4 separate regions of the Homo sapiens genome follow, and all the other regions are linked to region 1. Evidence: fine-mapped expression QTL. A gene starts in region 1. Each other region holds a variant in brackets. All regions are shown on one strand. Distances are between the middles of the regions. Region 1 holds the start of ACTN1-DT (ACTN1 divergent transcript). Region 2 has its middle 30 kb from the start of ACTN1-DT. Region 3 overlaps DCAF5 (DDB1 and CUL4 associated factor 5). Region 4 overlaps ACTN1 (actinin alpha 1).

Evidence for each region. PIP is the estimated chance that this variant, and not a neighbour inherited with it, causes the effect.
Region 2: its variant is fine-mapped to the expression of ACTN1-DT in whole blood (INTERVAL, PIP above 0.99).
Region 3: its variant is fine-mapped to the expression of ACTN1-DT in breast (GTEx, PIP above 0.99).
Region 4: its variant is fine-mapped to the expression of ACTN1-DT in sigmoid colon (GTEx, PIP 0.96).

The regions. Positions count from the first base shown.
Region 1 is chr14:68,975,710-68,983,914 of GRCh38, reverse strand. It overlaps ACTN1-DT (ACTN1 divergent transcript), which reads right to left and starts at 4,233. Exons shown (of 4, transcript NR_073422.1): 1 at 4,131-4,233; 2 at 3,728-3,987. ACTN1 (actinin alpha 1) reads left to right here and starts at 4,613. Exons shown (of 22, transcript NM_001130004.2): 1 at 4,613-4,963. The coding sequence starts at 4,859. RefSeq lists a silencer at 4,556-4,605 and enhancers at 3,747-4,745, 4,746-5,745.
Region 2 is chr14:69,005,157-69,013,361 of GRCh38, reverse strand. No RefSeq gene overlaps it. Among named protein-coding and RNA genes, the nearest start is that of ACTN1-DT, 30 kb to the right of the region's middle. RefSeq lists an enhancer at 7,294-8,205. The variant T/C (reference allele first, on the strand shown) is at 3,651.
Region 3 is chr14:69,063,248-69,071,247 of GRCh38, reverse strand. The region is part of intron 7 of DCAF5 (DDB1 and CUL4 associated factor 5); the gene reads left to right. Among named protein-coding and RNA genes, the nearest start is that of DCAF5, 86 kb to the left of the region's middle. RefSeq lists enhancers at 4,389-4,488, 4,579-4,628. The variant A/G (reference allele first, on the strand shown) is at 4,580.
Region 4 is chr14:68,887,397-68,895,396 of GRCh38, reverse strand. ACTN1 (actinin alpha 1) reads left to right here. Exons shown (of 22, transcript NM_001130004.2): 9 at 1,650-1,742; 10 at 3,114-3,344; 11 at 5,111-5,258. It also overlaps the pseudogene HMGN1P3. Among named protein-coding and RNA genes, the nearest start is that of ACTN1, 88 kb to the left of the region's middle. RefSeq lists an enhancer at 4,383-4,883. The variant C/G (reference allele first, on the strand shown) is at 4,176.

The DNA of each region.
Region 1 (8,205 bases):
GGCTCTGTCACCCAGGCTGGAGTGCAGTGGCCCAATCGTGGCTCATTGCAGCCTAGACTTCCCAGGCTCTAGCAATCTTCCCACCTCAGTCTTCCAAGTAGCTGGGACCACAGGTGCACTCCACCACGCCCGGCTAATTTTTAGTATTTTTGGTAGAGATAGGTTTTTACCATGTCACCCAGGCTGGTTTCGAACTCCTGAGTTCAAGCGATCCACCTGCCTTGGCCGTCCAAAGTTCTGGGATTACAGGCGTGAGCCACTCCACCTGGCTCCCTTAACTTTCTTTAGCTTACATTTTCAACTTTTTCCTCTTAACTGAATTCTTCTTTTCAAACAGCTCACATTTTCCAGTTTTAAAAGAAATCTTCCTTTGATCTCAGTACTTGCGTCTAGCTATTGCCCCTTTAGCTACTTCTTTTTCCCCTCTATATTCAGTCTCCATTTATTCACTCCTAATGTCTCTTTAAACTTACAGCTTTTGCCACTCTGCCAAAATTCCATTGGCCAAGGTCACCAGTGAATTTTCAACTGTCATATCCAAGAACACTGTTTAGGCCTTATTTTCCAGACTTTTTGAATATATCTGATATTGCCAATTCCTCTTACTTTGAAACCTTACTCCTTTGACCTCCTCAACGTCATATACTCCAGGCCCTCCTCGTTCCTGGATGACCATTTTCTTTGTCTCCTTCAGGGGTTCTTGTTCTTTGCTGTCCCTTTCTAAGTGTTGTTCTCCAGGGTTCTGCCCTCTTCTCATGTCCACCTGGGCATTCTTCATGGGTGGTCTCCTGGTGTTAATATCATCCATATGCAGATGACTCTCAACTCTGTTTTGCCTGAGGTCAGGGCTATGCAGTCAAACTGCCTGCTGGTCTATGGAATCTGGACATTCTAAGAGCACTCCAAATTCAATGTGTTCAAACTCAATCCATGATTCTGTTCCTAAATATTTTCCTTTTCTGTTCTATCTTAATTGGTCATAGTGCCACCATTCCCCAGATCATCTAAACTATAAACTCATGATTAAAGCAGGATTGCTCAACCTCAGCACTCTTGATATTTTGGGCTGGTTAATTCTTTCTTTCTTTCATATTTGGCTGGTTAATTCTTTCTTTCTTTCTTTTTTTTTTTTCTGGACAGAGTGTTGCTCTGTCACCCAGGCTGGAATGCAATGGTGCAATCATGGCTCACTGCAGCCCTGACCTCCTGGGCTCAAGCAATCCTCCTGCCTCAGCCCCCCAAGTAGCTGAGAATACAGATTCACACCACCATGGCCAGCTAATTTTTGTATTTTTGGTAAAGACGGGTTTTCGCCACCTTGCCCAGGCTGGTCTCGAACCCCTGACCTCAAGCGATCCACCTGCCTCAGCTTCCCAAAGTGTTGGGATTACAGGCATGAGCCATCATGCCTGGCCTGGATAATTCTTTGTTGTGGGGATGCTGTCCTATCCATTGTAGAACGTTTAGCAGCATTCCCAACCTGCATCCACTGGATGCCAGTAGGAACCCACCAGCTGTGATAACCCAAAATGACTCCAGACATCAACAAATATCCCTTGTGAGGGGGAGCTGTTAAAATATCCTAGAGTTGAGAACCACTGGGGTTAAAGGCACAGGTCTGGGAGTCACATGTACTGGTGCCATTTTGGACTAGTTACTACCTCTCTGAGCCTCAGTTTGTTTTCTCTGTAAGACAGAGAAACACCTCATAGGAGGAACTTAATATAGGTAAAGTGCATGGGATCTCTCAACAAAAACACTTATCTTTTCTCCAGACTCCTAGGTCTTTCAGTTTTATCCCCTAAGTATTTCTGGTCTATCCACACTTTTCCATTTCGACCTGGATTATTGCAACAGCTTTGCAACTGGTGTCAAAGCTTCCAGCCAGCCTTGCTCCCCTTAGATCCACACTCCACCTGGCACATGAGGCCTTCATGGTCTGGCTGCTTTGCACCTCTCTAGCCCCGTCTCTTGCCCCTCCCGGCCTTGGATTTCTAGTCCAGCCACGTTGAGATGCTAGACATTCCTTTGTATACCATGCAGTTTCCTGTCCTTGTGCATTAGCTTGTGCTGGTCCTTCCTTCTGGAGTAACTTCCCACACTCTTTATCTGGCTGACTCTCATTCTTTAACGTTCACTTAAGTTTCACCTCCTCCAAAAAGTTAAGCCTGGAGCCTCCTTTCCCACGGGGTTCAGTGCCCCTCATCTGTTCCAACAGTACACTTGTCAGATCTCTCTCCTTGCGTCTAACTCATGACATCATATTTTTGTTTCTGTGTCTGTCTGCTGGGCTGTGTGCGACAGGGACTATGGCTTTTTCATCTCTGTATACATCTAGTACATTCCCTGATATGCAGATGGTGCTCAGCAAATATTTATTGGGTGAATGAATGGATACAGCACTACCATTACCCTCTGTGTTAGGTTTAGAGCCACAGTTTAGAAGCGGTGATAAAATGGTCCATAAATCAGCTGTCTCTGTGGCTCAGAAGCAGTGCTTCCTCAGCCAGGGGCTTTTGGAAGGCACAGTGCTGGAGGGTAACACTCATATGAATATGTGTGGTTGACGAATGATGCAGCCAGAGACACCATCCGATATCTGCTCACAACAGCAGCAGTGGCTCTTCTGAGAACCAGGGGGCACTTTCTTCACCTTTTCCATGGGTGGCTTTCAGGTATCCACCATCGCCTGGAGAGAAGGTAGAGGACAAAATCCAGCCCATAATTCAGGGCCCTTCCTGTCAGTGAACTTCTTCTTCTAACTCCTTCACTCACTTCTGAATTGACATATTTGCATTTTAAATTTAAATTTAAATTTAAATTTTTGCAGTTGATGCAGCCATTCATCCTACAAATACAGTCCTCCCTTAGTATTGGCAGGGTATTGGTTTCAGCATCCCCATGGATACCAAAATCTGAGGATGCTCAAGTCCCTCACAGTCAGCCTGGGTATCTGCGGGTTCTGAAGCCTGTGGATATAAAGGGCCAAATGCATATATGTATGTATATATTTTGAGACAGTCTTGTTTTGTCACCCAGGCCGGAGTGCAATGGTGAAAATGCACCTCACTGCAACCTCGACCTCCCAGGCTCAAGGGAGTCTCCCGCCTCAGCTTCCCAAGTAGCTGGGACTACAGGCGTGTACCACCATGCCCGGCTGATTTTTGTATTTTTAGTAAGGACGGGGTTTTGCCACGTTGGCCAGGCTGGTCTCCAACTCCTGGGCTCAAGCGATCTGCCCGCCTCAGCCTCTCAAAGTGCTGGGATTACAGGTGTGAGCCACCGCCACCGTGGCCAGCCTCAAATCCATAAATTAAGCTCTACTATGTGCTGGGTGCTGGGGTGGAAGACTGGCACATCTGTTGTTCACAAGACAGTGCATAACCTAGGAGAGGTTTATTTGCTACTGTTCTTCGGAACCGGGATCCCATAGAGGAGCCTGCCAGAACGCGAGGCCTGCTCCTTCCCGGGCATTAGCGCGTTTAGACTCTCCTCTTACTAAGCCCAGGGAAAGGAGTCCTGGCAGGTGGCAAGCAGAAGTTAGAGCTATTTAGTCACTCCCGCCCTCCATCCTCCTCCAATGACAATAAGGTTTTGTTTGTCAGGCATAAGGTTACCGGATTGGCCTGTGAAGTCCAGAAGCTCTTTCCGCGCTCGGCTCTTTGAGCCTCAGTTTCCCCATCTGTCAGGCGTGTGTATGTGGGAGGGGGGTACGGAGTAGATTTACCTAGATCACTCGGGGTTGTCCCTTCCAGTTTTGAGGGTGATGTCGGGGTGTCTGTGAGGAGGAGGGAGGACCCTGCCACGCGAAGGTAGTTTTGGTCGCAGCAGCCAGCCAAGTGTGCCCGCGGAGACCGGCAGGGAATTCCGGGAGGCCCCGCTGTGGAGCGGTCCCCAGAGCCCGAGGGCGAGCTAGAAGAGTTCCTGCGGCGAGGCGGGAACGCTCGGTAGCCTCTGAGAGCAGTTCGCTGGCGAGAAACCGGGTTCCTGCAGGGCAGGGATCAGCCGGGTCGCGCCTTGTAGGGTGGGGTGGGGTGGGGCGGGGCCGGGGGGGGCGGCGGTGGAGTCGTGAAATTCCCAAGAAATTCCTTTCCATTGCCCCACTCCGCCCCCTTTCCTAGGGTGCCGACCTGCCCAGACCCAGGTTCCCTGGGAAAGAGAAAATGAATGTTCTTCGGGTTTCCTCGCGTCCTTTCTCCAGCCCCCTCCCACCCCGGGGTTTGGAGCGCGCGTGGGAGCGCAATAACGGTGGCGGGGAACGGGTCCAATCCCGGCGGCTCCTGGGGTTCCCAAGCGCGCTGCCACTCAGTCCCCGAGCTCGGGGAGGCGTCTCCCGGCTTCGGTCCCGTTCAGCTTAAGCTGGCGTCACATGAGCCGCGGGGGAACGGGCACCGCGGGAGTGGGCGGGGGTGTGCGCGCCGGGAGGGGGCCGCCCAGTCCACCTATATGCGCCGCAGCCCGGCTGACGGATGCCAGGAATTCCCAATGAGAGGCGATGGGGGGAAGTTTGGGCAACTCGGCCTGGCCAATGGAGAGCCTCGGGAGGGCTCTGCCCCTTCCCCCCGCCCCCGCCCGCCTCGGCTCCCGCAGCGCTAGTGTGTCCGCCTAGTTCAGTGTGCGTGGAGATTAGGTCCAAGCGCCCGCCCAGAGGCAGGCAGTCCGCGAGCCCAGCCGCCGCTGTCGCCGCCAGTAGCAGCCTTCGCCAGCAGCGCCGCGGCGGAACCGGGCGCAGGGGAGCGAGCCCGGCCCCGCCAGCCCAGCCCAGCCCAGCCCTACTCCCTCCCCACGCCAGGGCAGCAGCCGTTGCTCAGAGAGAAGGTGGAGGAAGAAATCCAGACCCTAGCACGCGCGCACCATCATGGACCATTATGATTCTCAGCAAACCAACGATTACATGCAGCCAGAAGAGGACTGGGACCGGGACCTGCTCCTGGACCCGGCCTGGGAGAAGCAGCAGAGAAAGGTTAGCAGCCGCCCCCGCCCGCTGCAGCCCCCAGCCCCCAGCCCCCAGCCCCGACCCGCTCTGCCTGCCGGGCTCTCGGCTCCGGGCTCTGAACCGGTTCCGGGCGCGCACGGGAGGGGGCGGGGGCGGTGCGGCCGTTGCGAGGTGGGGTGTTGGGTTACAGGCGCCTGGCGGAAGCGGGAGCGCCCCTGCCCCGGAGCCCGGGAACGCCGGGCCGGAGCGCGGGGAGGTGGCGCCGCTGGCGGGCAGGTCTCCTTGGGGGTCCGTGGTCCAGGCCACCCTGCGGCTGTTGCAACCATCCCCGCGTGGGCTGTGCTCGGGGGCGGTGGTCTTCAGGCTGGGGCTGAGACCCCGGCTCGGGGCTGCTTGCTCCGGATCGATTTTCCCTTTTCTTCCGCCCCTGGCCACCTCTCCATATGGCGTGCGGTGGCAGCGCCGCTTCCTGGGCCGCCCTGGGTTCAACCTGAGCGGCGGGCCTCCCGGGACCCTGCTGCCCCTTAGGCGGAGGGGAGAGCGCCGGAGAGATCGGCGGCCGCCTCCGGATCTGCCTGGAGAAGGACCAGCTGGAGTGCGGCTGGGGACGAGAAAACTGGGGGGCGTACGCGGGCTCCCCCGCGGGCCCTGTGGGGGCGGGGTCAGGACAGCAGACCGTTTTATTGCTTAACTCAGTGGGTTGGAAGCTGTAACCCCGACATGGGCTTGCGCTACGTCCTGCCCCTCCGACCCCCGGGAAAGGTGGGCAGCTCGGTTCGAGTTGAGGGGCTGCAGAACGAGGGTCAGTCTTAGGGGATATTTGGGGCCAGTCACTGGGGATCCCTACTTAGCCACGGAGCTGCATCCCAGGCAGGCGCGGTGTGCCGGGTGCGCGCCCCGCCACGGGAGCTGGGCTCGGAGCTGGCGATGGGACCCGGGCACAGTGGCCAGTGGCAGGAAGAGGTCAGAAACCACTCGTGGTGGTGGGGGGAGGGCGCCTCAACCCTACCGCTGCTTCCTGCCTGCGCGGTGAGCCTGTGCCCCCAGGCGGCCACGTACCCTGAATACCCCTTTCCCTCCCCCTCCTCCCGGCTGCCCACTTCCATCCGGTCCCTCCCCGTTTCATACCCTCCCCACCCCCAGGCTGATCTGGGAATGGGGTTTTGGGTGGGGGGGGGACAGGATGGCGCGTCCCTTTGGATAGTGCGGTTAGGGCTGGGCTTGAGGGAGAACGCTCATGTCCAAAAATGGTAACATTCATTCCCTTTTTTAAACTTAAAAGGGGGGTAGTTTATAGAGCCGACTGAAGTTTTTTTTTTCAGCCAAAGGCATCCTGTATTAGCTCACTCAGGAATCCTAGGCCCTGAAACGGAGCCCTTTTACTCACTTCATCAGACAGGCAGAGGTAATCTAAAACACACACAATGGGCTTCCTCAAAGCAGGATGACCTGGGCCGCGGTGCCCAAGGCCTATGCAGGGCTGGGCCCTATACAGCGACATCGGTCATCTACATCGGACATGGGAAGGTCCCCTGACTTCGAACTGACTTCTTTGTAATGTGCCAGTTGCTTAAACTCCCCCTCTTCCTGTCATCTTCCTAGTAAGAGCTGAAGACTGGGGGCTGCAGACAGTCCCCCACTCACTTGGCTTATTTCCTGGGACCATGGGTGCTGTGGGTGGAACTGAAAAGTGAGTGAGTAATTTGGAGATCCCTATGGGGCACCAGGCAGAAGGCTCTTTAATAATTTCAGGGTGAAGCCTTCTTGAGAATGGATTTTAAATTAGAAGTGAGATTAGGGTGGTGGATTGGGGTCTTCCCTGGGGGTTAGAATCGAAGGAGAAATCCCTGCTTAGGGAGCACCTGCTTTGTGCCTGGGAGGGGCAGGAGTAACAGAGCTGCCTAGGAACTAGGCCCCTGAAAGGACTGTGAGACCAAGTTCCTAGGGGACAGACACTGAGCACCGGCCTGAACATCGTATTTAATATTTCTGAATGAATGAATATATTAAACGCAGTGGGGAGAAGAATATAGATTCCCAGGGCTCTGACCTGGGTGGCAGTGGGTGTGCCCCAGGCCTTTGGGCAGCCAGGTAGGAAGAGGTGGTCTGGGAAACTGGGTTATCCTGGAGGCAAACTCAACAGTGCCAAGAACTGGCATTTGCTGATATGTGCCAGGCACGAACAAGGACTAGGAAACCAGGGCCAGAGAGGGGAAGTAACCAGCTCCAAGTCCAGACTGTGTTTGGTGGGGCTGGGATGCAGCCATGTTTGGGACTGGCAGCTTCCCCTCACTTGTCCCTCCTTGGCAAGGGAGGCAGGAAAGCTGGGCCTCGCAGCCAGAGCCAGAGCATCTGGGAACCAGGAGAGCCGACACGTGCTTTGGGCGGGGTTGATGGAGGGGCCATGGCAGAAGGAGCTCTGGGCCTGACTCTGAAGATTCAGATCCACATTTTTTGTTTGTTTGTTTCCTGTTAATTCTCTAGATTATCTTTCGTGGGCCTCAGTCTGCAGAATTTCTGGCCTGCCTAGTTCTCAGTAGGGTGATATTAAGGAGGTGGTATTACAGGTGAGGGATAAGACGTAAGGTAAACGTGTTGCTTTTGACACTCTTTCTACTGACTGGGAGGCGGGGTTTGTGTGGGACCAGAGTCCACAAGTGGACAGAGGCTGATGGTTCCAGAGGGAGGCAGGGGAGTGAGTGTGAGGAGGGGAAGAGGAGGACACAGTGTAGAGGGATACAAAGGTCACCCGGTAGAAGGCAGAAGACCCTCTTTTTAGCTTTGGTGCAGCCATAGCTATTTCTGAGACTTTGGGCAAGTCTTTCCATTTCATCGAGCTTTTATTAGGTCATTCAGCAAATACTTTGTGAGCACTCATTCTGGGTCAGACACAGTTCCAGGTATTAGGGATGGGGCACTGAGCAAGACAGACCAAGTTCCCGTTCTTGTGGCATTTCCATTAGGTTTCCTCCTCTGTAAATGGGACACATTTCTGCCCGTGGAGCCCTCAGGACTCTTCTGGGGAATCAGGTTAAATGATGCATTGAGAAGTGCTTCCTTGGTGAAAGTATGGCCTGATGTGGAGGCAGGGAGAAGTCTGTGCAGGCAGGAGGCATGACTCAAGAAGCTGCACTGGCTTGGCCGAGGCTTGTCCCTCTTTCAAAGAATGCTTCGGTACGGAGTTCATGGGCTGGTCGCCATGCCTCCAGACACAAAATGCAGTTATCTTCCAGACAGAGCACGTGGATTAGAGGCATTTCCTCTACTTT
Region 2 (8,205 bases), 29 kb before region 1:
ATGCCACTGCACTCCAGCCTGGGCAACAGAGTGAGTGAGACTCCATCTCAAAAAAAAAATACATATATATGTGTGTGTGTGTGTGTGTGTGTGTGTGTGTGTGTGTGTGTGTGTATGTATGTATGCATGTAATGGAGACAAACCTGTCAACTAGGAGCTTCACACCACTCTCATAGCAGCTGCTGCCCCCCACACTTGCTTATTCCATCTTTGGGTCTTTCTGCTCAGAACTCAGAGTCCCAGGGGAGGAAGCTGGAATGACAGCCCCAGCAAGACTGTGCACAAGGAGAGAAGGATTCCCCCTAAAAATCAAAGCTGGGCCCTGCTTTCAAAGGAAGGGCAGAATATAAGCTGGACCAACAAATAACAGCAAATATTCCACTGGTTTAGGAGGGAGGTGGGTGGTGCTGGGACAGGGCATGGACTTGGGGCCAAGGAGACATGGGTTAGAACCCGAGCCCTGGCACGGCTGGCACTGTGGACATACCCCACTTAAAACCCCACCAGGCTTCCACTTGCTCCTGGGGAAAAGCCTCCAATTCTTTCAAGGCTCTGCATGCTCTACCTCCAGACTCATTGCCTGGACATGAGCCATTACTTCTCTCTACAGAGCTTTCCCCCTTCCCTTCCTCTGTGTATACTTAACACCTCCTCAGCCTTCAGGCCTCACTCACAGCCTCATCAGCCTGGTTGCCTAAATATATATATGAAGAGAGAGAGATTGAGATTTTGATTTTAAGGAATTGGCTCATGTGATTGTGGGGGCTGGCAAGTCCCAAATCTATTGGGCAGGTCGGCAGACTGGAAATTCAGCTAAGAGTGAAGTTGCAATCTTGAGCTCAAAATCCACAGGGCAGCAGGCTGGAAACCCAGGCAAGGGTTTGATGTTGCAATCTTGAGGCAGAATTTCTTCTGAAACCTCAGCCTGTGTTCTTAAGCCCTTCAACTGATTGAATGAGGCCCACCCACATCATGGAGGGTAATCTGCTTTACTGAAAGCCTACTGACTGTAAAAGTTAACCACATATAGCCCAGGCACGATGGCTCACACCTGTAATCCCAGCACTTTGGGAGGCTGAGGCAGGCAGATCACTTGAGGTCACGAGTTCAAGACCAGCCTGGCCAACATGGTAAAACTCTGTCTCTACTGAAAATACAAAAATTAGCTGGGCATGGTGGCACATGCCTGTAGTCCCAGCTACTCGGGAGGCTGAGGCAGGAGGATCACCTGAACCTGGGAGGCGGAGGTTATAGTGAGAAGAGATTCTACCACTGCACTCCAGCCTGGGTGACAGAGCTAGACTCCTCAAAAAAAAAAAAAAAAATTTAACCGCATATAAAGAATACCTTCATAGCACCATCTAGGCTAGTATTTGACCGAACCACTAGGCTAGTATTTGACCAAACCACTAGGTACCACAGTCTAGCCAAGGTGACAGGTAGAACTAACCATCACACCTTCCCTGGCTTCTGGGGAAGATGGGCACCTCATCTGCTCCCCCGTCCTTACTTACATGCTATTCTGGGGGCTGTGTTCCCTTCTTCATAGAACTATGGCACTTTGTACTATTTATCTGTTTATCTTTGTTGTTCTCCCGATTTTCCACTGAGCTTCCATTAAAATAATTAAGTAGAAGGTCATTAGACTGAGGTGGTTTTAAAGTCCTAGGTTCTTATGTAAGTAAACTGAATCCTAATTCAAAATTAAAGAGAAAATTGGCCCAGTGCAGTGGCTCACACCTACACCTTGGGAGGCTGAGGTGGGTGGATCACTTGAGCTCAGGAGTTTGAGACCAGCCTGGGCAACATGGTAGAACCCCACCTCTACCAAAAATACAAAAATTAGCTGGGCATGGTGGTGCATGCCTGTGGTTCCAGCCATTTGGGGGGCTGAGGCAGGAGGGTCGCTGGAGTCCAGGAAGTCAAGGCTACAGTAAGCCACGATCTCACCACTGCACTCCAGCCTGGGTAACAGAGTGAGACCCTTACTCAAAAAATAAAATAATGAAAATGTTTAAAAAGATAAAAAAAATTAAAAATAAAATAAAACCGTCCAGGTGTGGTGGCTCACACCTATAATTCCAGCACTTTGGGAGTCTGAGGCAGGCAGATGGTTGAGCCCAGGAGTTCAAGATCAGCCTGGGTAACATGGCAAAACCCTGGCTCTACAAAAAATAAAAAAAATTACCCAGGCATGGTGGTGTGCACCTGTAGTCCCAGCTACTCAGAAGGCTGAGGTGGGAGGATCACTTGAGCCCAAGAGGCGAAGGTTGCAGTGAGCTGTGATCGTGCCACTGCACTCTAGCCTGGGTAACAGAGTGAGATCCTGTCTCAAAAACCAAACAAAACAAAACAAAAAAAAAGAAAAGAACAAGAAAATGAAACTTAAGTTCAGCCAATCACAGGTGGCCAACTGGGTGTATATTATATCATCTCGAAATTCCCATAGGATAGTCTGAATAAGGCAATTGCTCAAACATTAACCAGTCAAATAATTTTTTTGCTCTCTTCTGCATTCACCCTATAAAAGCCTTCCCCTTGTACCCCATTGGCAGAGCCCCAAGCCTGCTTTGAAGTCTCTGTTTTAGGGCTGGGTGCAGTGACTCATGCCTGTAATCCCAGCACTTTGGGAGGCTGAGGCAGGCAGATCACCTGAGGTCAGGAGTTTGAAACCAGCTTGGTTAACATGCTGAAACCCTGTCTCTACCAAAAATACAAAAATTGGCCAGGTGTGGTGGCTGGCGCCTGCAATCCCAGCTACTTGGGAGGCTGAGGCATGAGAATCACTTGAACTTGGGAGGTGGAGGTTGCAGTGAGCTGAGATTGTTCCACTGCACTGCAGCCTGGGCAACAGAGGGAGACTTCATCTCAAACAAACAAACAAACAAAAAAAGTCTATTTTAAAATCACCCTATAAAACCCTCTGTTTTAGAGATGCCCAATTCATGAGTTGCTATTTGCTCAAATAAACTCTTTAACATTTTAATGTGCTTCAGTTTACCTTTTAACATTCCTAAGGTGTGAATTTGTGTTATGTATTCTTAAGTCTTCAGATGCTTATTTAAACTGAAGATTTAGGTGTTTCTTTAGTTTTGATCAATTCTCAGCCATTTTCTCTTTAAATATTGCTCCTTCCTCATTTCTTCTTTGATCTCATTTTTCCCTCTATGTCTCTTAGCCACAATTGCTTCCATACTGTTCTTGCTGTGCTGCTGAGAGGGTGATTTTTTTCAGAGGCATCACCCAGTTTGCTAAGCGTGTCTTTAGCTCCATCTTGTTCTGCTGTTTAATCCATTAATTTTAATAAATAATCCTTTTTTTTTTTTTTTTTTGAGACGGAGTCTTGCTCTTGTCGCCTGGGCTGGAGTACAATGGGGCAATCTTGGCTCACCGCAACCTCCGCCTCCCGGGTTCAAGCAATTCTCCTGCCTCAGCCTCCAGAGTAGCTGGGATTACCATGCCTGGCTAATTTTTTTGTATTTTTTTAGTAGAGAGGGGTTTCACCATGTTGGCCAGGCTGGTTTCAAATTCCTGACCTCAAGTGATCTGCCCACCTTGGCCTCCCAAAGTGCTGGGTAAAATTACAGTCATGAGCTACTGCACCCAGCCCTAAATAATTTTTAAAGCTGTATTTTTCATTTCTAGAACTT[T/C]GTTTGATTTGTTTCCCAACATTTTTTAATATTATCTTGTTTCTTATTATTATTTCTTTTCTATTTAAAAATTCTCTAGAATTATTTAACCTATTTATTTTATAACTTCAGGTTTCTCTACTACTCCTGCTTCTTAGGGGATGAATTCTGATTGGTTTGGTTTGGTTTGGCTTTGGTTTTGTATTTACTGATTATCTCTTATGGTGGTTTGTTTCCCTGTGTGATTTGTAATTTTCAATTGGGAAACTCATTTCCAGTGGAAGGTTGTTTTTGCTGTGGAATGCCTGTGAGGCTGGGTTGTGAAAATGTACAGAGTACCTTGGGTTTTGCTTCTGTCAGGGCCCTAGGTTCTGGACTAACTTTTTTTTTTTTTTTTTTTTTTTTTTTTTTGAGACAGAGTCTCCGGTCATCCAGGCCAGAGTGCAGTGGCATGGTCTTGGCTCACTGCAACCTCCACCTCCTGGGTGAGGTTGATTCTCCTTGCCTCAGCCTCCCGAGTAACTGGGATTACAGGGGCACACCACTACCTTTGGCTAATTTTTGTACTTTTAGTAGAAAAGGGGTTTCACCATGTTGGCCAGACTGATCTCGAACTTCTGGCCTTAAATGATCCGCCTGCCTCAGCTACCCGAAGTGCTGGGATTACAGGCGTAAGCCACCGCACCCGGCCTCTGGACTAACTTTTAGATTAACTTTTTGGCATAGGAATCCTGGGACCAGTGGCATGCCAAAGCAGGGGATGAGGCGGGAGCAGTCCATCTCTCTCCTCCAAGTGAGGGAGGCCTGGCCTTTCCATCTTTCACGTGAACTTTTCTCCCACCCAAGACTTCTACAGTGAGAAAACTGTTGCTCCTTCTGCAGGCCCAGTTGGTAGTTTTTCCAGCCTTTCTTTTCTGTGACTGGGATACTCCTCAAGGCTCCAAGCTGTATTCAGCTGGATCAGTTCCAACTCTCCTGCCTCAAACAGCCTGGGGCTGCCTCCTGTTTTTGAAGGGGCTTTAGAACTCTGGGCTCTAGGCCTTAGGGCCTATATCTAGTCAAAACCTCACAAACCGGAGGCTTAGCTCTCACTCCATTTTCTGGCTTTGAGTTCTTGGAACTATTTCTGGAATCTGGGGTTTTCCTTTCTCTTGAGCTCAGCTTTGTATGTTCAAGTGTTTTTCTTGTATTTTATACAGCATTTTTATAGTAATGAGAGAGGGGCTGTCTGAAACAGTGCAATCTGGCATGTTGCCAAAAACCTTCTGCTGCATTGACCTGTGATTATTCAAGGAATATAGTCCTCTCCACTAGACCATAAACCCCATGAGGCAGGGGCTTTGTTGACTTTGCTGAATTCCCAGCTTCTAAAAAGGACCAAGCACATGGCAAGGGATATATATATATATATATATATATATATATATATATATATATATAGACAGTGTCTCACTATGTTGCCCAAGCTGGTCTCGAACTGCTGGGCTCAACTGATCCTCTTGCCTTGGCCTCCAAAGTGCTGGGATTACAGATGTGAGCCGCTGCACCTGGCCCCTCAATAAATATTTTTGAATAATGAACAAAGATACTCCCTCTAGGGGCATTAATACCTAAATCTTAGGGATGTTGGGAGAATTTAACAAGAGAATATGTAATATGCTTGCTATATGGTGGCAACTCAGGAAAGGTAGCCATCACCATAATTTGTCTGTTAAGGCAAAAGCTTGAATGATAGTTTCCCTGCAATTCAGCTCCCACCCTCACCTCAGACAGTAGTCCTGGCCCAGGATGGCAGGCAGGTTCTGTGGGTGTGGCCTCTTGCCACTTCCCAAAGTACCAGGTCAGCCCTTCCACCAGAACAGCCACAGCACTGTGGTTTTATTTTTATTTTTTTGAGATGAAGTCTTGCTCCGATACCCAGGCTGGAGTGCAGTGGCTCAATCTTGGCTCACTGCAACCTCTGCCTCCTAGGTTCAAGTGATTCTCCTGCCTTAGCCTCTAGAGTAGCTGGGATTACAGGCACCTGTAACCACATCTGGCTAATTTTTGTATTTTTAGTAGAGACAGGGTTTCACTATGTTGGCCAGGCTGGTCTCGAACTCCTGACTTCAGGTGATCCGCCCGCTTTGGCCGCCTCCCAAAGTGCTGGAATTATAGGTGTGAGGCACCGCGCCTGGCCTGGAAACAGAATTTGAACACTGATTTGTGTGTGTGTGTGTGTGTGTGTGTGTGTGTTGTAATATCTCCTTGGACATATTAGAAGGATAACCCATTAAGGACTATAATAATAATATATATTAAATGCCTATTGTGTCGGACACCCTCTTTAGTTTAATGCTATTCATTAACTGCTAGGTGGGTACCATCCCCCACTTTGTAAATGAGGAAATTGAGTCTGAGTGATCGTAAGTAACTTACCCAAGGTCCTGTAGCTGATAGGTCAAGGGCTAAACTCCTCTAACTCCCAAGCCCAGTCTCCTGCTGCCAAAGGATTTTCTTTCCTGTGAATGAGAAATTCTCTTGGAGCCCTGGTTCCCAACTTTGACTGCTTGCTGGACTCTCCTGGGAAGCTTTACAAAATCCTGATGCTTGAGTCCTACCCCCAGAGATTTTTATTTAATGGGAAATCAGGATTTTCTGAAGTTCCCTAGGTGATTTTAACAGGCATCCAAGGCTGAGCGCCACTGGCTTAGTGGGTTCCAAATCCCACATCCACCAAGGTCCTTGACTGTAAATGTCACCTGGCCTGACCATCCCCACGACTGGAAAGAAGACCAGAAAAGTCCAGGACAGGAGCCCACCTCAAAGTCCAAGGTCCGTAACTGGTGCCTGTAACTGCTTGCCCAGAGCCAAACTGGGAAATAGGCACCAATAATAGTAACAACATAATGGTGACAATAATGATAGCCAGGGTTCAAACAGTATTTCAATAATGTACTTATTGTGACGTAGCAGGCGCCTTGCGTACTTTACCTCATTTGTTTCTCACAGCAATGCTATGAGTGAGGTGCAATGAATCTCTCCATTTACAGATGAGAACACTGAGGCACAGGCAGGTGAAGTGGCCAGCCCAGGGCCACTCAGCGAGGCTGGGCAGGTTGTGTTCTGGACCACTGGCTTTTCTATGCTGCCTCTCCAACCCCGGGCTGCCTCTAACTTTGCAGTCCCTGGGTCCCCTCAGAACTCTCCCGCTACTCACAGCCCTAGCACTTGATTTGCTGAGGGCCTGCCCCGAACTGGGGAGGTGGGGGTGAGCAATAAATGTGGATAAGGGGCCTGGCCTGGCCCCTCCACTGGATCTCACAGTCTGGCAGGGGTGATAAGGCCAGAGTAGGTGGAATGAGACACAGAGGATGGGTGGAGGGCGGAGGTGGTGGGATTCACCCTCAGCCACCAATTGATGGAGAGATCCTAACCCTTGGTCAGCAGGCTTCTAAGACACCCCTGCCACCGTATCCCTTGAGGCCAATGCCTGAGGCTGGATCCCTGAGCCCTCTTTCTGCCCCCGCACAGTTCCTGGAGGAGGACCATGTCATGGTTAGGACACACGTGGGTTCAAGACCAGACACCTCAACTCTGCAGACCTGGTTTCCTCACCTATGACATCCCTCCTCGCAGGTTTGCTGGAAAGATTGAACCAGCTGGACACAGCCAGTGCCTGGAGTCGGCCTAGCATAGTGTGGGTACAGCCCTTCTCTCATCCTCACCCTGCACTCCTCCCAGCGCCCAGCCTGGCTGCCCAGCCACTTCCCAGCACCAGCTTTCCATGTGGGAATGGAAACTCTGAGAGGGACCACGTCTCTTTGTATTTCCCCAGACTGAATTGTTCACAGCTGGCAGCATGGCTGAATGACTCACCCCTCCCGGAAGGATGCCTGTGTCAACCCAGCAGCTTCATTCAGGTCAATGCTTATTCCCTGAGCACCCGGTAAGTCCGTGGCTCTCATCCCTGGCAGCACACCAGAATCAGGGGGTTTGGAAGTGGGTGAAGCCACAAGGCAAGGAAGAGGCAGTGGAATCAGGATCTCTGGGGTGAGGCCCAGGCATCTGCATTTCTTACACAGTCTCTTTCATAAGGTCAGCAGAGGGTCTTCGGTGTAAGACCAGGGTGTTTGCTTAATATACAGAGTTCAGGCACACGCCCACACCAAGTGAATCAGACTCTGGGGATGGGTTGTACAACCTGTTTGAACCCCTTTCCCTGCAGGATTTCTTTCTTTTTTCACAGAAAGGTTTAGAAACTTCCCTACTTAGAAGAAACCAGTGTGAGGAATAAATGAGCCCAGCTGCCGAAGGACGTACCCTTGGGATGAGAGGATGGCCAGGAGCTGGAGGAGGCAAGGGCTGAGGGCCGGGAGGATGAAGATGAATCTCAGCTGAGGGAGAGACCAATCTGGGCTAGGGAAGGTGAGGCTGGGAGGTCTCTTGGAAGAGGCAGCTACATTCCTCTCATTCCTTAAAGGTGAATTTCTGAGGGTAGAATTTCAAGGGGGCGAATGGAAAGGACAGGAGCAGTATCTATCTATATCTATCAATCTATTATCTATCGGTCTATCATCTTCCCCCAATCCCCTCC
Region 3 (8,000 bases), 87 kb before region 1:
CCAATAGGACTTCCTAGTGGGCTGAGGAGATCATTTCAAGATGTAAGACCTATATCCACTATAAAACTTGCTACCAGGGAAGATCAGGTCCAATTTTTTAGTAATTTCAAACAACTCATTCTAAAAATCCCTTTAAAAATTAAAGGAAGGGGCCGGGTGCAGTGGCTCATGCCTATAATCCCGGCACTTTGGGAGGCTGAGGGGGGCAGATCACTTGAAGTCAGGAGTTTGAGACCAATCTGGCTAACATAGTGAAACACTGTCTTTACTAAAAATTCAAAAATTAGCCAGGTGTAGTGGTGCACACCCATCATCCCAGCTACTCGGGAGGCTGTGGCAGAAGAAACGCTTGAACCCGGGAGGGAGAGGTTGCACTGAGCCGAGATTGCACCGCTGCACTCCAGCCTGGGTGACAGAGGAGACTCCGTCTCAAAAAAGAAAAACAAAAAAAAAAAAAGAAAAATAAAAATTAGAGGAAGGAATAGAACTAGAACTGGGAATTTTGCTGTGGCAGAGAAGAAGTCCATTGGAATATGTCTAAGACCTCTAAAGTAGGTAGGAAGGGCATCTGTTTTTATGTGGTAATTCTGAAAATAAAATAAGTAGACCAGCAGTTACATATAGAGCCAGTGTTACATATTGAAAGGAGCATTAGACTTAAAATCATACCTGGATTCAAGTCCTCTAACTTGAACTTAACTACCACTAACTACATGTCTGATTCTTAGCAAGTTACATAATAGTATTTGTCTGAGCGTCAGTTTCTTACATAAAATGTCTCCTACCTCTGCCTTATATTGTGTGTTGATTTAATAATCTTGGAAGCTTTCTGAAAACAATGTGTATTCAAATACAAGACATTGTTATTGCTATGTATAGTAAGATCGATGTAGATCCATCATTTCCAAAGCATTTTTTCCCTAGTAAGTTAGGTATGAAAGTAATGGATTTGGCAATGTGTGGGAAAGGTTGGTAGGTGTCTCTTGAAAATATTTATATTGCCTTTCCCTTCTCTTTCCCTGAATTCTTGTTAGAAAGGGCTTTAGGGTTTTCACAGGTTGAGTTGCTTTTCCAGAGCTACCTCTTACTCTAAGACCTTCTTATTTATGGAAAGAAGCATAATGTGATAGAGTTGTTAGGAATGGCTTTAAATTCCTGATCCATTTATCTTCCAACTGGGGGCTTTGGAAAAATTTCCTAATCTTACCAAACTCCTGTGAAATAAGGATAATACCACCACCAACAACAATAATACTTTCTTAGGATTATTGTGAGAGTACTTAGTAGCTACTCAACGACTGTTATTCCTCACTAAGAAAGCCTTCTCGGCTGGGCACAGTGGCACATGCCTGTAATCCCAGCACTTTGGGAGGCTGAGGTGGGAGGATCGCTTGATGCCTCAGGAGTTTGAGACCATCCTGAGCAACATAGTGGGAACCTGTCTTCACAAACTTTTTTTTTAAAACTAACTGCTGCTAGGCACAATGGCTCGTACCTGTAATCCTGGCACTTTGGGAGGCTGAGGCGGGAAGATCAGTTGAACCCATGAGTTTGAGACCAGCCTGAGCAACACAGCAAGACTGTGTCTCTAATAATAATAATAAAAAGAAAGAAGAAAAGAACGAAAGAAAGAAAGAGAACAGAAAGAAAACTGGGCATGGTGGCATATGCCTGTAGTCCCAGTTGCTCAGGAGGCTGAGCAGGACTATTGCTTGAGCCCAGGAATTTGAGGCTGCACACTTCAGCAACAGAATGAGACTCCGTGTCTACAAAAGAAGAAAAAGAAGGCCTTCTCCCTTTTTAAACTCACCTTTTAATAACTCCTTAGAGATCAAGACATTGTCCTTCCTTGCTACCCACCTGGAATGGCTGATTGAGTTGTTCTTGCATGAAGGCTGCCCTTGACTCATCAGTAGTTCAGGAGGGTTCTCTTATGTGACAAATTTTTCCCTGAATGGAAGGGAAAAACATGTATTTTTACTGCCGAGTCACTGTAACCACCCCCACTGGCAGTAGGCTGATGAAGTAGGCTGGAAACAGCTGTAAATGCATTTTTTTGGGCCTGCATATGTTTGTGTGCTCTGTCTTCTTTTTCTAGACATGTATTCACTCTCAGTGACTTAGGCCTAGGTATCTGCTTTTTCCTCCCATGTAACTGGAAAAAACAGCTGTTTTTAATTGGTTGCAAGTAGTTGGTTATAAACACATGTGAGGCACATATGATGAAAGAAGAACTCAGCATAACTGACTTTTTTGTGCAACTAAGCATTGATGCCTGTGGAGCTCTTTGAGCTGTACTGACAGCATTGGCTGTCCCCATCTGGCTTTTCTCATTTCTTAAGTAGTTATGTGGTCTCCAGGAGGCAGTCACTGCTCTGTCCGTATTGTCAGTATCCTTGATGGTCCTCTTTATGGTTTGACACTGGAAGACCCTGCAACTGTTCACTTGGGCCTTTTTGAAATGCTAAGAGGCTTGGATACCTTTTTTAGATGTACCAGGAAAAGAAATAGTCTATGCCTTGCAGTAAACTTTTTTTTTTTTTTTTTTTGAGATGGAGTTTCATTCTTATTGTCCAGGCTGGAGTGCAATGGCATGATCTCGGCTCACCGCAACTTCTGTCTCCTAGGTTCAAGCTATTTTCCTGCCTCAGCCTCCTGAGTAGCTGGGATTACGGGCATGTGCCAGCATGCCCAGCTAATTTTGTATTTTTAGTAGAGACAGGGTTTCTCCATGTTGGTCAGGCTGGTCTCGAACTCCCGACCTCAGGTGATCCTCCTGCCTCGGCCTCCCAAAGTGCTGGGATTACAGGCATGAGCCACCACATCTGGCCCTTGCAGTAAACTCTTAATTCTACCAGTGGGGTCAAGAATGAAATAGATTGTCTTAAATCTACTTACCAAACCTCATTTTAGCAGATAACTTTAACTTCAAGCTTTATTCCAGAGAGGATGATGAGGGCTTTAACTTCAATTTGTTCACTTATTGAGTATCCTTAGATAAGACATCATGTAAAGCTCTATGGGCCACTGAAAAATGAACATTTTTTGCCTTCAGAGAGCTTCCAATATAACAGAGATGAAAAAAGGATGTGCATGGGCACACACACAGACATATGCACTCGATGTAAAAGTGGCTTCTGAGGCCCATAAAAAAGATAATGAAGGAGGTCTTGAAGAGATTTGGGAAGATTGGTAAAGTTTTCCTGCAGTTAGCATTTCAAAGGACCCTGAAGGATAGATAGGATTTCAGCCCCTTTATTTCTCTGCTCCTGCTTAACTACATTATAGTAAAAATGCTGTAAAAGAATATCTGGGCCAGGTGCAGTGGCTCAGGACTGTAATCCCAGCACTTTGGGAGGCCAAGGTGGGCAGATCACGAGGTCAAGAGATTGAGACCATGCTGGCTAACATGGCGAAACCCCATCTCTACTAAAAATACAAAAATTAGCTGGGCTTGGTGGTGCGTGCCAGTAGTCCCAGCTACTCGGGAGGCTGAGGCAGGAGAATCGCTTGAACTGGGGAGGTGAAGGTTGCAGTGAGCCGAGATCACGCCACTGCACTCCAGCCTGGTGAGACTCCATCTTAAAAAAAAAAGAATATCTGGGCTGGATTAGGTGGCTCACACCTGTAATCCCAGCACTTCCGGGGGCCAAGGCAGGAGGATTGTTTGAGCCCAAGAGTTTGAGACCAGCCTGGGCAACATGGCAAAACCCCATCTCTACAAAAAGTACAAAAAATTAGCCAGGTGTGGTGCCATGTCCCTATAGTCTCAGCTACTAGGGAGGCTGAGGTAGGAGGATTGCTTGAGCCTGGGAGCGGGGGGTTGCAGTGAGCTAAAATCATGCCACTGCATTCCAACCTGGGGAACAGAGTGAGACCCTGTCTCAAAAAAAAAAAAAAAAAAAAAAAAGATACGAAATCGGCTGCAGGAAGATGGAAAAAAAGAAACATTTATTGGGTGATGGAGCCCATATGTGAAGATTTTTTTTTCCTGCATGCTTGTGTTCCACCATCTAATACACTCACATCTTTTCATTTCATCATATATTTATTAAAAACCTTACTATGTGCTAGGCACAGTTCTAGAGACTTGGGATACAGTGGAGACAGAAGCCCTGCTGTCATGGAGCTTATGTTCTAGCAGGGGAAACAATGAACAATAAACATAGTAAATTATGTAGTATGTTTAAAAGGTTAGAAGTGCTATAGAAAAAGTAGAACAGAGGAAGACGGGAAGTGGTATTGAGGACAGTGTCCCAGCATGATTGATAAATTGCTATTAGACCAAGACATCAAGAAATCTTGACCACATTGCTTTCAGCTTTTGAGTCAAAAACGTACTCATTCTTGGAGGACTTCATGAAGCAAATGAACTTGACACTAAACAAAAGCAACTGAAATTGGCTAGAAATGGGAATAGTATTCTGGCTCTTCAAAGGCCTGAGGCAATAAACCCCTGGCTGAATGTTATGAAAGTGGGCCATAAGTAGAGAAGGGAGGGAAATTAGGACATACACATTTCCCTTAGTCTTCTCTAGGGAGACATTTGACCTTGGCATTTAGAAAGATCTTTATCTGA[A/G]TTTTGAGCAAGGTGTTTTCCCCTGGGATCCTGGGGTCCCCTACGGTAGTAAGTGGATTACTGATACTGAAATTCTGTGAGATACCTTGTTCTCATTTTCTTTTCTGAGATCTTGCAATAGATATGGTTATAGTCTTCCCTACCCCCCTACCATCTCTTCTAAATCAAAGAAAGATTAATATATGGGGACTTTGGCCTCAACTTAGGAACTAAACTTAAAAAGGAGTGTCAGCTGGCCAGGTGCAGTGGCTCATGCCTGTAATCCCAGCACTTTGGGAGGCCAAGGCGGGCAGATTATGAGGTCAGGAGTTGGAGACCAGCCTAACCAACATGGTGAAACCCCATCTCTACTAAAAATACAAAAAAATTAGCTGGGCGTGGTGGTGTGCGCCTGTAATCCCAGCTAGTCGGAAGGCTGAGGCAGGAGAATTGCTTGAACCCAGGAGGAGGAGGTTGCAGGGAGCTGAGATCATGCCACTACACTCTAGCCTGGGCAACAGAGCAAGACTCCATCTCAAAAAAAAAAAAAAACAGTGTCAGCACATTTGGCTAAGCCAACCAAAGCAGATGGCCCAGAGAAATGACTGTTGGTTTATACAGAATTTTATAAACAAATGGCAGCTCAGGAATGAGATCCTTTTTCCTGGGTATGTGGTATTTTATTTATGGGTACCCATTATTAGCGATTCAGTCAGGACTTAGTTCAGCAACCAGGGGGTGAAGTTGATCCTTACCTGGGCCCTTACCCACAGTCTTAAGAGATGACCCTGAAGGGAGATTATGTGGGTTATATAGTTCTTGGATAAAAATATGCCCTTCCTGTCTCCTTCCAATTTGATACTACTATTGACCAGCATGGTCTGATTAGATGACAGAGGAAAGGAGACCCTAGATTCTTTCTGATATTGGCATTTTGACTTTAGCTATTTCAAATTAAAGGAGAAGCTATCTGGCTTATACAAATTTCTAGGACTAATCTCAAAAAATGATTGTACGTAAACTGTTCAGTAGCAGCTATATTCAATAATATCAAACCTGGGAACCAGGAAAGAAACTATGAAAAACCTCTCTGAAGCCATTTATTGCTATGATTGTACACAGTCTTGGTTACCTTAAACAAATGGCCACTATAATTCTGCCTGTACCTATTTTCACCATCAGTCTCTGGGTTTATTGATTCCCTCTTCTTTTTCAGATTTCCTAGGTACCAGCATGGGTGGAAAGAAGGGCAAAAAAGACCTTGTGTTAAAATTGCTACCAAGAAGAAAAATCAGGGCTGGGTGTGGTGGCTCACGCCTGTAATCCCAGCACTTTGGGAGGCCGAGGCGGGTGGATCATGAGGTCAGGAGTTCAAGGCCAGCCTGGCTAAGATGGTGAAACCCCGTCTCTACTGAAAATACAAAAATTAGCTGGGCATGGTGGTGGATGCCTGTAATCCCAGCTACTCAGGAGGCTGAGGCAGAGAATTGCTTGAACCTGGGAGGTGGAGGTTGCAGTGAGCCGAGATCGAGCCACTGCACTCCAGCCTGGGCAACAGAGCAAGACTCCGTCTCAAAAAAAAAAAAAAAAAAAGAGGTCATATTGCATGAAAGTGCAAGAGAAACAGTTTTTCCATGGTCTGAATTTTCAGGCATTGATAGCCTTCAATTAGTCTTTAGATCTGATAGTTACTTTAATTGTGTTCCAAGTCAGAAAGATTGGTTTGGTTGATGCACTTTAGTTCTATGATAGCTGATTCTTTATATGAGACCTTCCAGCTGTCTTCTTTTGACATACTTATTCTAAAATTGCTTTCTTTTCAAACACTATGCATTCAGCAAGTATTTATGCACCTGGTGGACTTTGGACATTGCACCCCAGGTTCTAGGTATGCAAGAGTAGGTAAGACAGATCCAGTTCTATTCTCATCATGTACTCAGTGTCAGTGGTGTGATGAAATGGCTTATGGTAATGCTGTAGAGCTTGTGCTCAGGATACCATTGAATACAGTGCCCCTCCTTTTAATTTAGAACTTCAGAAGAAAACCACCTATCTAATAACTGCCTGAAAGATTTAGAAATCTAAATCTTTTGAATGTAAGCTTCTAACTCCATTCCTATTCAAACTCTTCCATCTTCCAAAGGCAGCTGATATGGTGGAAAGCATATTAGGCATTGTAGCCAGACTCTGGTTCAAATCTTGGCTCTGCCATTTTCTAGCTTTATGACTTGGGATAAGTCACTTAAATCCCCCCACATCCCCCCTCTTTTTGAGGCAGTAGGATTAAACAAGAGACTGTTACTAGATTTAAATCAAAGTTTCTTTGCTTAACCACCCCAGTGGGAGTAGAGGTAGAAGTAGGATGTTAAAAAAGTAAAATTCAGAGGACACCCATGAGCAGAAATGCTACTTGTCATAATGAACCTTATCTAGAAGAAATAGACCCAAAGGAACTTTTTGGGGATGGTAGGATCTCTCTGTCAAGACAACTATTTTTGGGTTCTTTAGATTCCTATTTATCCCTCTTCCCTAATTCTCTCTAGTTTATTTTCATTTTGACTGGCCCAGCTTCCCTTTCATACCACCTTAGGAAGCCAGTGCTAGGGGTTCCCACCATGGCAGTCTACATCAGTGCCTAACTTTTCCTTGTCCTCTTTCTCCATGAAAAATCCACTAATCCTGTGTCCTAGTCCCTCTCTTTTTTTATGGTTTATTAGCAAACTTGATGTTGGGCTGAGATATGAATACGATAAATATATTTTCCATTCTGGACAATTCAAATATTATTGTCAAATATGGAGAAAAATTTTGTCACCCATCAAATAGATTGAGCACCTAAAGCTGGCTGAGTGAGTAGATGGGTGCAGTCTGGAACCTTTTGCTGTCATAAAAAAGATATGTACGTGGCAATAAGGAGGTATCTCTTCCATGAGACAAAAGAAGAGTTGTGTTAGGGGGCCAAAAGCAGAAGATACCCCTAGAGCCATATTATTTCTGGGGAAGGGACATTGTTGTAGTCATTTTCCCTCCAAACACAGACATTGAGAAATATTTGGAATGAGTGTTTGAACAAGGTGGAGTTGGGAGTGGAAGGAGGCACTTGGAGCAGAGACTGTCTAATGATACTTTGTGGCCTAGTGGCGCCATGCTCCTGGTAGGGACTAAGAGGGGATCCCTTGAGTAGATAAATGAACACTCATTTGTTTGTGTCTGGATGCAACACATTTTGCCAGTTAGCCAAATGCACATGTTTCTCTGTGTGTCCTGAGTTGTCTGATTGCTCAGAAGGAACTTGATCAGAATTTATGTGCATGTGTTCTGGATGGATGTGATACCATTACCAGTGCAGTGGAAACTTTGAATTTATCCCAAGTTCATAAATGATAACATGTTTATCTATGTTACAAGTTCCAGGCCTCTGGCACTTTTCTCATTCACTGAA
Region 4 (8,000 bases), 88 kb after region 1:
AGCATTTCCCTCTTCGTTGCTTCTTGGGATTCCCCGTGGGTGCTTGTTGGTTCTCGAGAGAGATGGCGATCAGTCAGGAGTTGTGGGTGAGAAGCAGTCATGGCATCTCCAGGACAGGGTTGAGTTGGGGTCAGGGGGTGAGGGCCTAAGGATGTGACTCCCTGTCTCAGTTTCTTGAGGCCCAGGACTCAAAGTCCCCACCTCAGGGGACTCTTAGACCACCCTCTGGCCATTCCCACCTTCTCCTTATTGGTTCTCCCAACCCATTCTGACACCTTGCTCTGCAGGTCATGCCTCCCTTGACCTCCTTGACTGTGTTTCTGACAAGGCCTTTAGGATGATCTCATTCTGCCCCTTACCCCCTGCCCCACACACCCCAGCATAGTCATCCATCCACAAAGCACATGATTTGGTGGGCGGATTCGAGAAGTTCTTCAAGGAAAAAACATTTCCGTCTTCCATCTTAGTCATTCCTTCCAATTCTAAGCACGTTCATTCTCAGGAAGCTCTTCCTTACAACCAGCCTCAGTTCATCTTGCTGCAGTTGAAACCTGTTTTGTCTTGTTCATCAACCAGTTGTGAGGTCCTGTCTTTCAACCTGTTAATCCAGGGATCATTTTTCATCTGCAGGGCACCCTTCTCCAGGGTCTCAGGATGCATGTCTGTCTTCTCACAGATATCATCTTCTCCCACCCCCAGGCTGTCTTCCTTTCTACCCTCTGGCCCCCAAAAGGCTTTGAGTTCACTTCCCCCTTGGTGTAGGGTTGGAATGTATGCAAGAACACAGCTGGATTTTAAAACCACCTATTTGAAGTGGACTCAGGAATGCTGGGTCCCTGCTGGTGTTAGGGGTACAGTAGCCCCCACAGCTGCAGAAGGCGCTCTCCCACTAAGGTTTCTTAGTCTTTGCCTGGGATTGCCATTCAGTCCCCTTTCCTTCCCTTTGCTGCTGAGGCCATCTTGGGTCCCTGCTAGCCCAGCACGCAGCGCATGATGTGTGCTTAGCTGTCTGGAAGAGGCCTGTGCTGGGTTTGCTGGGCATTGAGCCCATACTTGGTTGATCCGGAAGTCTGGACTTGGGTGCAGTAGAATGTCCGTCAGTTTTCTCTAAAGTGCTTCAGGCTTTGGGCCAAGAGCCTTGGGAGATTCTGCAGGGATCCCAAGAGGTCCCATGATTTCTCAGTCAGCACTTTATCCCAGGACTCCCGGATTTGAATTCCCACATCTCCAAGACCCTGGAAAATCCAGCCAGAGGTCCTAAGCCTTGCAGTTCCAGTGCCTCCACTTGGAATTCCAGGATGGGCATGAATTTTCTCACCTCTCCACCTGACCTGAGTATTTTGATTATATCAGTCATTGGATTAGTTTCTTCCCAACCTGCAGGTTGGGCCTTAAACTCAGGCTGTTCTCCAGGGGCCCAGTTCAGCCACCAAGACCTCTGTCCAGGCTCACTTGACCCATGGGACCTGGCCATGGGCTGGCAAGGAGGATGGTAAGGAGAGAGGAGGAATGTGACCTCACAGCCTTCTTAACTCCCTTCCAACCACAGGGAGCTGCAGGGATGGGAGGGGCTTTGTCAGCACAGGTGTGTACCAGGTGCCCCTGCTGCTGGGGCTGGCTGGTCGTGACTCTCTCTGTCTTGTTGCCAGGCGGAGACAGCAGCCAATCGCATCTGCAAGGTGTTGGCCGTCAACCAGGAGAACGAGCAGCTTATGGAAGACTACGAGAAGCTGGCCAGTGATGTGGGTACCCCCGGGTTCACCTGGCCTGACTCTAGCAAGAGTCAGTCCCCTAGAACGTGTACCTCCAAGTCTTTCCTTGGAGCATAGTCTCAGGCTTGTATAGTCTCTGATCCCAATACTGCTAGTCCAGGGCAGCCTGAGCTCTGTTGTGGCTCTCCCAGAAAGTAGTGAGGTGGGGGCAGAGGCCAGTCCCTGAGTTATCATGAGCCTAGGATATCCCTTTGCCTCTCAGAGTCTTCTTGTTTTTTTCACTTGTCAAGTGAGAGTTGAGCCAGGGGATGTCAAAGCCTTTCCAGCCTAGTGTACTCTTAGTCTGTGAGTTTTGCTTCAGTGAGAAAAGGAGCACATCTGGTTCTAAGAGGGTGAGGGTAGGGTTTTCGGTAAATTAGTGCCGGCTCAGGCTAGCATAACAGCTACCAAAAGTAGCGGCTGTCCCCTACTGTTCAGGGAACAGGATGGCACAGTGCTGGGTTTCCTGTTCTGCCATTGGCTACATTTAGGTTAAGCCTCCTCTTCTTGAAAGAATTCAGCCCGTTGAGCTGCTCAGCCCAGCCTCTTGGTGGATCTGCTGCCCAGCATAGTAAGAACGCAGGTTCTGGAGCCCAAGTGCCTGGGTTTAAATTTCTGCCATTCCAGCCAGGTCACCTTGGCAAGTTACAGGACCTGGTAGGGCCTCGGTTGTCTCCTCTGTAACATGCAGGTGATCACAGCCCTTAGCTTTGTAGTGTTTCTGTGGTGATTCAGATGAGTCCATGTGTGTGATGTGCCTGGCCCCCTGCAGGTGTTCAGTGTATTCCTATTGTCATGTGCACCCCTCCACCTTCTCCACCACCATCACCTTGGCCCAAGGAAAACAGTCCAGGCCGTGCCTGCTTGTGCTCCAGGCCAGCTCTCTGCCCAGAAGCCAGCCTCTTCCCTTTTAAGTCAGAGACCCACATTCTAGATTCTTAGGAAGTCAGATGGCAAGAACTTCTGGAAATAGCTGTTAACCCCCTCCATGGTATAGATGAGGAAACTGAGGCCCAGCCAGTTAGAACCTGGTACTAAAACCCAGGCTTCCTTCCTGCCTTTTAGTTGCACTAACTTCACACCAGGTCTATGGGTCTTCCCTTAGCAAAGCAGGGAGGTTGAGTGACGTGACTGTGAGTCGATGTACCCTAGTAGCCAGGCTTCACGAAGCCTGTGGTTCTCAGAGGGAACACCCTGGAAGCTGACTTCATGGCCTGGGAATGTCAGTGGTTGGGAAGGAGTGTGCTATTAGGAGAGACCCCTTCCCCATGTGGGAGGGCTGTTGGGAGGAAAGGGAGGCTGGCCCTAGCACACTCCCTCCCCGCCTCCTCACCTCCTGCCCCCACCGCCTTCCCACCCTAGCTGTTGGAGTGGATCCGCCGCACAATCCCGTGGCTGGAGAACCGGGTGCCCGAGAACACCATGCATGCCATGCAACAGAAGCTGGAGGACTTCCGGGACTACCGGCGCCTGCACAAGCCGCCCAAGGTGCAGGAGAAGTGCCAGCTGGAGATCAACTTCAACACGCTGCAGACCAAGCTGCGGCTCAGCAACCGGCCTGCCTTCATGCCCTCTGAGGGCAGGATGGTCTCGGTGAGCACTGGGGGTGAGCCTGGGCCCCCAGACTGGACTGCCTCCACCTCTGAGCTGCTCCTAGTTGTGGTCAAATTCAGCTTTATGGGGGTGCGGATGGGCGTGTTTGCTTCTACCTACATACACTGCTCCAGAAGTCACTTCCCCCTTCCAGTTACCACCCAGGCTCAATCCCAAACTCGGCCATGTGGGGCAGCCCCCTCTGCCCAGACCATTCTGGGTCAGGCTTGCCCTTCCAGACCCCTGAGCATCTACTCCAGACCTCCCTCTCACAAAAAATCATCCCTATGAACACAATGCTTTTGACACCCTGAACCAAACAGGGCATAATTGAATCGCAGTCAAGTTGATTTCTACTTCCATGGAATCTTAAGTAGTTAAAAAATATTATTATTGAAGTAATAGTTTTGTGGGTTTTTTTGGGTAGTATATTTCAAAGATACAAATAAGCAAAATACAGAACATGGAAATTACTGAAAATCTTACTACCCAGTATCAACTTTAAAAAAAATGATTTTAATCCTTTTGGTTTTTTCGTGTAAATATTTGAGGGAATCCTAAAGTATATGTATTTGAAATTAAACATTTTTTCCCGGTTTCTGTACTCAAGTGTCCCCTGACAGATAACTAAAGCCTGTTTTATATAATAAGCTGCTTTAGGAAAACCCCCAATCTTACATTATATTCTGACCAGCTTTCCATGTCATAAAATACTCTTCTTTTAGGTTATTTTTGTTATTCATCCTTCTTGACCCTGTCCCCACAACTTAGGGAAAAATTTCATAAGCCAGAGAAACACACAGAAGAAAATGTAAGAAATTTGCCATGACG[C/G]AGCTTTTTGTCCTTAAGTGAAAAGTAACAGGAGTGTCATGGGCACATGACAGGTCTAGAAGGGGAGGGTGAAAGGCAGACAGCATCGTGGGGAGACGGCAGCCCAGGGGGTCATGGAGGGAGAATACATTGCAAGTGGGTATGCAGTTTGGAAAATTGCAGTCATTTCGGGGCTCCAAGGCTGAATCAGTAGCTTTTAGGTGGCCAGAGCCACTGCTAGCCTAAGGGTGCTCTATGAGAATTAGACAAAGTACCCTTTCTGGGGGACAGATGTAGCTTGGCCTGGGGACATGTGGGGAGGGTGGCTTGCAGGGTGCAGCCCCAGTGACTGTCCAGCTGGGCACTGTTGCACAAACTGGAGGCATGGCCCTGTCTGAAGGGGCGTGTGGGTTTGCACTCAGCATCTGTCCTCCCAGAATTCTGGCCGGCTCACCCAGGCCGGGGTCTCTGTAGGCTCCAGGTTATTGCCCAGAGGCCTGAGTCCATGAATGGATCCAGGACAGTGGGGAGGCTGGGCAGCTCCAGTGCCTGCTTGCCTCATTGCACATTGTTGGTCTGTTTACCTCGGGGGCCCTTTGCCTTAGCACATGTGTGACCTCTGTGATCGGTTAGAGTCCTGCGGGAAACCAGTCCTAGTCAGGGAGAGTCTGGGGCCCTTTCCCCACAGGGCTCTGTTCTCAAAGTCCCATAGCTGGGTGACCAATGTAGATGCAGGTCCCATGCCTTGCCCAGGAGGCCTGGCTCCTGGGAGCCCAGAAAATACCAGTGGGAGATGGGAGGTATGGTGGGGCAGCCTGGCTAGGGTGGATATGGGGCAGAGATAGGGAAGAGGCTCTTCCTGGAAGGCATGGGGCACCTTCAGGGGTCTAGGGGGCTAGGGGACCTGAAGCCTAGGCCCAAGCCAGACCCTGACCCTGTACCTCCCATCCCCACAGGACATCAACAATGCCTGGGGCTGCCTGGAGCAGGTGGAGAAGGGCTATGAGGAGTGGTTGCTGAATGAGATCCGGAGGCTGGAGCGACTGGACCACCTGGCAGAGAAGTTCCGGCAGAAGGCCTCCATCCACGAGGCCTGGACTGACGGTGAGGCCAGCCCAGCCTCCTGCCTCCCCCCAGGGCTTCACTTCCCTACTCTTCAGCCCAGCCAGCAGCCACTATGCTATTCTTTGCTTTTCATTTGTTTCATTTGGTCTCTTACTAGTTCCATGGCTTTAGGCAAGTTCATTAGCCTTCTGGTCGCCTCAGCTTCCTCATCTGTAAAGTGGGAATAATAATAGTACCAACCTCACAGGCTTGTAAGAATTGAATCAGTTAATACATAACGAAGTTCTGAGGAGAGTTCCTGCATAGTGCAGTGCTGTGTGAGTGTTCACTTTGCAGTCAAATCCTCTACCCCGAGTGTTCACTTTGTTTTTTAGTTTTATGGGGGTTTTTTTTTGAGATGGAATTGTGTTCTTGTTGCCAGGATCGAATGCAATGGTGAAATCTCAGCTCACTGCAACCTCCACTTCGTGGGTTCAAGTGATTCTCCTGCCCTAGCCTCCCTAGTAGCTGGGACTACAGGTGCCTGCCACCATTCCCAGCTGATTTTTGTATTTTTAGTTTCACCATGTTGGTCGGGCTGGTTTTGAACTCCTGATCTCAGGTGATCCATCTGCTTCTGCCTCCTGAAGTGTTGGGATTACAGGCGTGAGCCACTGTGCCCAGCCGTATAATGTCATCTTAAGGAATTATGTCTGCAAAGAGCCTGTTTCCAAATAAGGTTCTATCTTGAGGTTCTGGGTTGACATGAGTTTTATGGGGGACCCCATTCAACCTAATTCAGTCTCCTCATGGGTTGTTGTGAGGCTTAAATATTATAGTACATTGCATGCTTGTGGTTTTCATCTCTTCAGCTCTTTTTCCTCTATTTCCTGGCCTCCAATTACAGTGAACCAGCCTTTGCCTTAGCACATGTGTGTCCCTGTTGCTCCAACCTTGAGGCTCTTGGGGGCGTGTCTGGTGTCTGCTTATTGGCAGCTAAGGTGAACTCTGAAGAGAGAGGATCATACCTAGGATAGTATTTTCCCCAGAACCTGGACCAGGGCTGGAGGTGGGGAACAGGCTGCCTATCTGCTGGGGCCCCTCCGGCCATTTCAGCTGGAGCGTGGGACAGACCTATTGGCCGGCGGAGCTCAATGCCCTAAGACTCCCCCAGTCAGCCCTGTTTTGTACTCCTCAGATCTTAGGTTGGAGATGAGAAGGAAGAACCATACCCCAAGGCCATTTGGGAGTGGCTTGGCTTGGTGTAGGGCAGCGGTCCCCAGCCTTGTTGGTACCGGGGACCAGTTTCGTGGAAGACAGTTTTTCCATGCAGTGGGGAGGAGGCAGATGCTTTCAGGATGACTGTTCTACTTCAGATCATCAGGCATTAGATTCTCATAAGGAGCACACAACCTAGATCCCTCGCATGCGCAGTTCACAATAGGATTTGAGCTCCTGTGAGAATCCAGTGCCGCCCCTGACACAACAGGAGGCGGAGCTCAGGTGGTAATGCTCTCCCACCTGCTGGCTCACCTCCTGCTATTTAGCCCAGTTCCTAACAGGCCACGGACCAGTACCAGTCTATGGCCCAGGGGGTGGGGACCCCTGGTGTAGGGGATGGGAGTGTGCTTGACTGGCTAAGGGGGGTTGGCTCTAGTTCCCCTTTGTAAGTACAAATGCTGGGCTTTGCACACAATGGTAAGAGGTTGCTGCCCCCACATCCACTGTGCGTGTATGGAGTTATTTATCCAGACGTGACGGGCAGAGTGGAGGAGGCACAGTGGGGATTGCACTGATTCATCACATGCTTCTGTCGGGTCCAGCTCACAGCCAAGGTACAAAGCAAAGATTGACCTCGTTGCCTTGCCAGCCACCAGCAGGGGCATGAGAAGTGCTGGCATGCTGGCACAGCCTCTGGGGAAAGCAGTTTGGCCACATGTATTCAGTTCTACCAATTTTACTACACTCTGACCTGGGAATTCCATTTCTTGAGACTGTCTAAAGAATCTATCCTGGGCGTGAGGAGTGGCAGCGGCCAGGCAGCACAGTTTCGCAAAGGCTGTCAGCATGCCGCGGCCCGCAGACACCTGGCACGCGCCCTCCCTGCCGCCAGGATGCCCAAGGGGAAGGTCAGCTCTGCTGAAGGAGCCGCCAAGGAAAAGCCCAAGAGGAGATCGGCGCGGTTGTCAGTTAAACCTCCTGCAAAAGTGGAAGCGAAGCCGAAAAACGCAGCAGTGAAGGATAAATCTTCAGACAAAAAAGTGCAAACAAAAGGGAAAAAGGGAGCAAAGGGAAAACAGGCCGAAGTGGCTAACTAAGAAACTAAAGATTTACCTGCAGAAAACGGGGAAATGAAAAGTGAGGAGAGTCCAGCCTCTGATGAAGCAGGAGAGAAAGAAGCCGAGTCTGATTAATACCATATACCATGTCTTATCAGTGGTCCCTGTCTCCCTTCTTGTACAATCCAGAGGAATATTTTTTATCAACTATTTTGTAAATGCAAGCTTTTTAGTAGCTCTAGAAACATTTTTAAGAAGGAGGGTATCCCACCTCATCCCATTTTTTAAGTGTAAATGCTTTTTTTTAAGAGGTGAAATCATTTGCTGATTGTTTATTTTTTGGTACAACCAGAAAATAGTGTGGGATATTGAATTATGGGAGGCTTTGACTGTCTCGGGTGTCAGCTTAACATTCCATAGATGGGGGGGTTAGTTTTTATATCCTATAATACAAAGCATATTAAATGGCAATATGGAGTCAGTCCTGCATTTAATATCTTGAACATTTTAAATTACTTCTGTT